2 separate regions of the Homo sapiens genome follow, and region 1 is linked to region 2. The links come from fine-mapping of genetic effects on plasma protein levels. Region 2 holds a variant in brackets. A gene starts in the other region. All regions are shown on their reverse strands.

Region 1 (2,915 bases), not on the chromosome of region 2:
AGTGAGACAAAGCCAGAAAAATTGACCCTTAGTTATTGGTATGTTAGTTTTGTAGCCTTCAGATAGCACTGAGCTATTAAGGTATGGGCTACAAGATCTGGAAGTAAGCCCCATCACTGCTACCTATGATCTTGAGCAAGTCACTCTACCCATGAGAAGCCACCTGTCGCTTCCCAAAAAAATGAAAACAGCACTTACTCCACGACAAGACTGGACAAATAAATATGCAATTGCATATAAAAGCTTTTGTAAACTGAAGGTACTTATTATCATGAATAGCTCTGCTTCCACAAATCCTGACCTAAGACACTGGGAATGCAGAGGCTTCTCTCTCATTTCAGAAGCAGGACAACAGAGAGAAAACAGAGATGATGACTCAGCTTCTCTCTCCTCTCAGTAATGGATGAGACTGATGAATTTCTTCAAGAAATATATTTGTAAATGAGATGTCTAAGTGGAGATTGCTTTACACTCACCCCTAAGTCTCAACCGAGGAGTTGTTAGTGAATATGATGGGCCAGTGGAGGGGTTGGGTTTTGTTTCCCCACTAAATATAACCAGAGGCTTATTCTTATATTTTTCTTTAACAATCGGAATAATTATCTATTTGCTTTCCTTTTCCTCCAAATACAAATTGGAAAAATAAAATTTTTATAAAGAGAAACTTGTTACATATTTCTAGATCCATTGAGGACTTCCTAGCTCTCCTAGAAAGTCTGGTCTAACTATCTTCTCTTTCCGCATTTTTATCTTTCAGAAAATGCAATTTCTCACAAAGCACCAAAAAATATTTCTCCCCCAGAGAATCACAATACAGTATTAGGAAGGAAAGTGTTCAGTAATCCCACCACTGGGTTTCAAGTAATTTCAAGACTTTAATAACACAAAAATTGAACTCACCTAAATTGATTTCTGAAATATCCTTCTGTTCACCAAAATCTGCATCATGTACTGTTAAAAGTGAGAAAAAAAATTATTATTAGTCTTGCCGAAGGAAAAAAGTTCAAAAACACTCTCTGTGCATTTGAACTAATTCTTACCATTTTCTTCAGGAAGATACTTAATCTGAAAAAAATAAATATACAGAAAATGGATAATGTATACTAGAATTAATATTTCTAAATATCCAAAAAGCAGGACTCGACTTACCGGTACAGCTGCTATGTGGGCAAAAAGCAAGGTAAAAAAGAGAATGCAAGTGGATCTAATCCAAGCCATTGCTGCAAGTGAGCTGATTTTAGCACACACCTTGTCATAAATACCGTTTAGACTTTACCCTGACGGTCGTATTAGAAACTTTGACCCTTCCATATGTACCGTAGTGCCAATAAAGGTTGTCAAAGATAACATCATTGACTCTTTCGAGGACAAACACTAAGTTTACCTTAAATGCTTAAGCTCCAAAGACTGGGGAAAAGTTTGAAAAATTAATACGGAAATGAGCATATAAGAACTAATAACATTCCTATAGGGCAGCCATAGCCATTCATATCATAAAACAGGATAGACGATCCCCTTAACAATAAAAATAAAAATAATTTATAAAATTATTATTATTTAATTCTAATAAAATATAAATTCAAATTTTATGGAAATGTTATAAAGCAATTATTGAAGGACATAAAAATACCTGACTCTCTCTCTATATGTACATATGTATGAAATATTAATAGATTGTTTTAATATTAATCTATAAATTCATTGTCATTCTAGTAAAAAATCTAACAGGGTTTTCAGTGGAACTTGCCAAGCTGACAAATGGTTCAATTCGCATGAAAGAGTAAACATTGAAGAATAGATAAGAAAATTCTGAAAAGGCTGAATAAAGAGAAAAGAATTGCCTCAAAAGAATATCAGGAGCTTTGGTAAAGTTACAGTAATTAGAGTGTAATAGTTCCAAAAATAAAGATAAAATGAATCTATAGACTGGAATAGGTAATATCCAAATAGATGCAAGCATATGCAGGGCTTTTATGTATAAGAGGAACCAAAAAGGCAAGAGGGAAACTTGGGTCTCTTTCATAATAATGTGGGAATAATTGCATTTCCATATGAGGAAATACATTAAATGTACACCTGATACCATTGACAAAAATAAATTCTAGATAGATTAAAAATTTAAATATGAAAATATAAACTTCAAAAAAGAAAATATAGGAACATATTTTTAACCTTTAGGTCAAGAAAGATTGCTTAAACATGAAAAAAACATAGAAATTACAGAGGAAAAGAATAATACATTTGACTGTATCAAAATTTAAACTTCTTTATGACAAAAACATAACATGATTAAAAGACAAGCCACAGGTGAGAGATGATATGTATACTGCATATAATTGAATAAGAATAAGTATTCAGGATATGTAAAGAATTTCTACAAATCAATAAAAAGAACAGGAGATTATCTAAGGAAAAAATGAACAAAAAATATGAGTAGCAAATTCACAAAAGACCCAGATGGCCAATAAATATGTAAAAAGATTTTTAGCCTCGTAAGTAATCAGAAAAATTATAGGTTCAAATAGCAGTAAAATACCACCTCAAGCTAAGATTGGCATAAATTAAGAAGACTGACAATATCAAGTGTCAACAAGAAGGTAAGAAAATAGGAAATCTAGTAGGACATCAATTTGATGCTATCTAATGAAGTTGAAATGTGCACAGTTCATAAGATAGAAACTTCACTTCTAGGTCTATATGCTAAAGGAACTCACACATATGTGCACAAAATTCCACATAGCATATTCATTGAAGTTTTTTTGTTATGGTAAAGAATGGGGAAAATGTGTTTATACTAAAAGAAAAGATAAATTATGGAATATATTCAGCCATGCACAGGTAAATGTTTAATAATCGGCTCTTTTAAAAAAAGTAAAAACAAACAAGCAAACAAACAAAACCAAGCCTTTATTTGT
Region 2 (2,915 bases):
CTCAGGATGCTAGATTCCAGTCCTAGCTCTGATTCTGATCTCTTGTGAACTTGGGTAGGCGGGTCCATCTCTGTGCCTGGGGTGTCGTCGTCTGCACCTGGAGAGTTAGTGTCCTTGGTTGCTAAGGGGTCTCAGAGACGATGCAGGCATGGGCAGCAGGCCAGGAGGCAGCGACGGCGCCGGGGGGTGGTCCCTATTGAAGGAGTGGCCCCTTATGCCAGCTGCGTAAGAGCAAGGAGAGGAGCCAAGGACAGTCCGAGGACCAGCAGACCCAGCTCAGCTCTTGAGGATGGCAAGACCAGAGCTGGCAACAGCCAGGGCACCGTTTCTCTTTCTCCTCGGCCTCTGCTGCTGGAGCGGGCTGGGGGCAGGGAGGACACAGAGAGGGAGTGGCTGGTGCTTCCTTGTGGGACTAGAGTCCACACAGCTGGTGGGAACCCCTTGAGAACAGCAAGTCTGTGCCCTGCCAGCAGGTGGGTGGGGGTATGGTTGAGCCTTTTTGGAAGGTCTGGTTACTGATTTGGGGGGTGGTCTTCCTTCCCCATCTCCCTGACACATCTGACAGCCTTGGTTTCAGAGTTGCGGTACCCCAGCTTTGAATCCTCTGTCTGCGCTTCCTGGCTGTGAGGTCTTGTGAGAGCAGGCCATGTCTCTGTGCCTCAGTGTCTTCATCTGGGAGGTGTCAGGGTGTGGGTGGGGGTAGAAGCAGGGTGGCACCCTGGACAGCTCTGGCTGGATGGGAAGGGGCTGCAGAGGGCACGGGGAGGCTGTGCGGGCTGCGTAGCTGTGCTGGCAAAGGAGAGCCTGGGCGTCTGGGCAGTTCTGAGGGATTGAGCCATAAAGGGAAGGGTCCCTGGCTGTGGAATGACTGAGCGGGCGGAGAAGCCCTGTGTGGGTGGTGGGGAAGAAGAGTCCATCCCACCCAGGAACTGAAGATAGACACCTCAGGGGTCTGTTAGACCCTTGAGAGAGCAGGGGCAGTGGCGGCTTGGGTGTAAGAAGGAGATGTGCAGAAGGAGGGTGCAGTGGCTGCTACTTCCTTGTGGGGCCAGTTTCTCCAGGGATGGCGGGGACCCTGAACTCCATAGCCCTCCCCAGCTCACACTGCTGGAGTCTTCACCAAACCCCACTCACTGCCTTTTAGGAGCAGCCCTGCTGCCCTAACGAGGGCTGGCTGGAACAACTCTGCCTTTATCTGGCATGCAGGGACACCTGCCCATAGCTCTCCTTCAAGGTCAGGCCATACTTTCAGACCTACGTGCCTTTGCCTCCGTGCTGTTCCCGCTGCCTGGAATGCCCTCCCCAGTCTTCTCCCCCAAATCCTCATTGTTTCTCAAGCCCACCTTAAAGCTTCCTTTGGTAACACTTCTGTATTGTACTACCCCCCACCGTTTAAAATCTTGGAACACTTTTACTCTTTTCTATATTCTTTGCATCTTACGTAGCGCCTGGTATATAGTAGGAAGTCATAGGGCTTTTTTAAAAAGTTAATTTGCGCCCACTGGGTGCT[C/A]AGTATGTATCTTTGTACTTTGAAATGTGACCTCAGGGAGGAGGAGAGAGGTTAACAGTTCTGAGGCTGTTGCCCTTAGAAGCTGAGTCAATCAGGGACTTCAAAGCTCTTTGAGTCCCATACCCTGCCTCCCAACCCACCCTAGCAGGGTGATATCCCCTTGCGATATCAAGAGCAGGTGGTACTTTCTCTATTTTACAGTGAGGAAAATGCAAGCCCAGCTATACACAGTGAGTAACAGCAGCCAGGACTAGCACCTGTCTCCTGATGCCCAGCCTGCTTCTCTATCACAGCATCGTCCCAGCCTGAGGTTGGCAGGTAGTTGGCACTAACGTGTGTTTGTTGACTGACTAGCTGACTGGCCAGTTCTGGGGCTTTGTGGTGAGGAGGGCCATGGCTCGCATGGAAGGCAGAGGCCTGGCTCAGGAAAGGCTCACTGGTTTAGGCGCCTGGGGGCAAGTGCGAAACTCTAGTCAGTCACTGCAGCTGCCTCTGACGTGCACCTTCCCCTGGTTACAGTGAGATTTCTGCCACGACTGAGTCATCCCAGAAGACAGGATGTTCCTCTTTGTGCACCCAGAGGGCTCTGTGATTGGGCAGGCTGCTCTGTGGCAGAGCTAGAAAAAAAGCCCTTTAAAAAGTCAAAAAACCGCACACCTCCCCCGGCCCCTTCCTCAGCAGAGGCTTCAGAATCAGAAAAGCAACAGCTAAATTGTAGCCTCTTCTCCACCTGCCATAACAGCAGGAGCCAGGAGGCCTAGTGAACTTCAAAGGGCAGGCCCTGCCTGAGGCCCTGGTTTAAAATGCAGATTCCTGGGCCCTATCCCAGGGCCACTGAGTCAGGCTCTCTGCAGGTTGTTTCAGGAAACTGCACGCTTAGAGGATTCTTAAGCACACTGAAGCTTAAGATCCCTGGCAGGGATTTCCAAGAAGGGTACAGGCCCTGCAGAAGGTATGAGAAGCAAGGATTAGAGCTTCTATTTAAAATATAGTTGACCAGCTGGGTGGGTGGCTCATGCTTGTAATCCCAGCACATAGGGAGGCCGAGGCAGGAGGATCATTTGAAACAAGGAGTTCAAAACCAGCCTGGGCAACGTGGCAAAACCCCATCTCGACAAAAAAAAATTTTTAAAATTAGCCAGGCATGGTGGCGCATACCTGTGGTCTTAGCTACTCAGGAGGCCGAGGTGGGAGGATCGCTTGAGCCCAGGTGGTCAAGGCTACAGTGAGCTCTGATTGCCATTGTACTCCAGCCTGGGTAACAGTGAGACCCTGTCTCAATAAAATAAAATACAGTTGATCCTTGAATAATACAGGGGTTAGGAGTGCCTCATGCAGTCAAAAATCTGCTTATAACTTTTAACTCCCCCAAAACTTTATCAATAGCCTGCTATTGACTGGAAGC

Direction of the effects. Alleles are on the strand shown, and positions count from the first base shown. The strength of an association depends on the size of the effect and on how common the allele is.
In carriers of allele C in region 2, the plasma level of the protein whose gene starts at base 1,228 in region 1 tends to be higher than with A alone (moderate association).

What was found. PIP is the posterior inclusion probability: the model's chance that the variant is causal. The UK Biobank Pharma Proteomics Project read protein levels with antibody pairs (Olink). The fine-mapping took linkage between variants from a reference panel, not from the people measured, so its PIPs are less certain.
Region 1: MEP1A starts here. The variant in region 2 is fine-mapped to the plasma level of the MEP1A protein (UK Biobank, PIP above 0.99).

What each region holds. Positions count from the first base shown.
Region 1 is chr6:46,791,702-46,794,616 of GRCh38, reverse strand. It overlaps MEP1A (meprin A subunit alpha), which reads right to left and starts at 1,228. Exons shown (of 14, transcript NM_005588.3): 1 at 1,150-1,228; 2 at 1,041-1,065; 3 at 901-951. The coding sequence starts at 1,218.
Region 2 is chr9:114,384,746-114,387,660 of GRCh38, reverse strand. The region is part of intron 1 of AKNA (AT-hook transcription factor); the gene reads left to right. Among named protein-coding and RNA genes, the nearest start is that of AKNA, 1.8 kb to the left of the region's middle. RefSeq lists enhancers at 1-52, 867-1,016, 1,787-1,846, 1,967-2,016, 2,037-2,106. The variant C/A (reference allele first, on the strand shown) is at 1,511.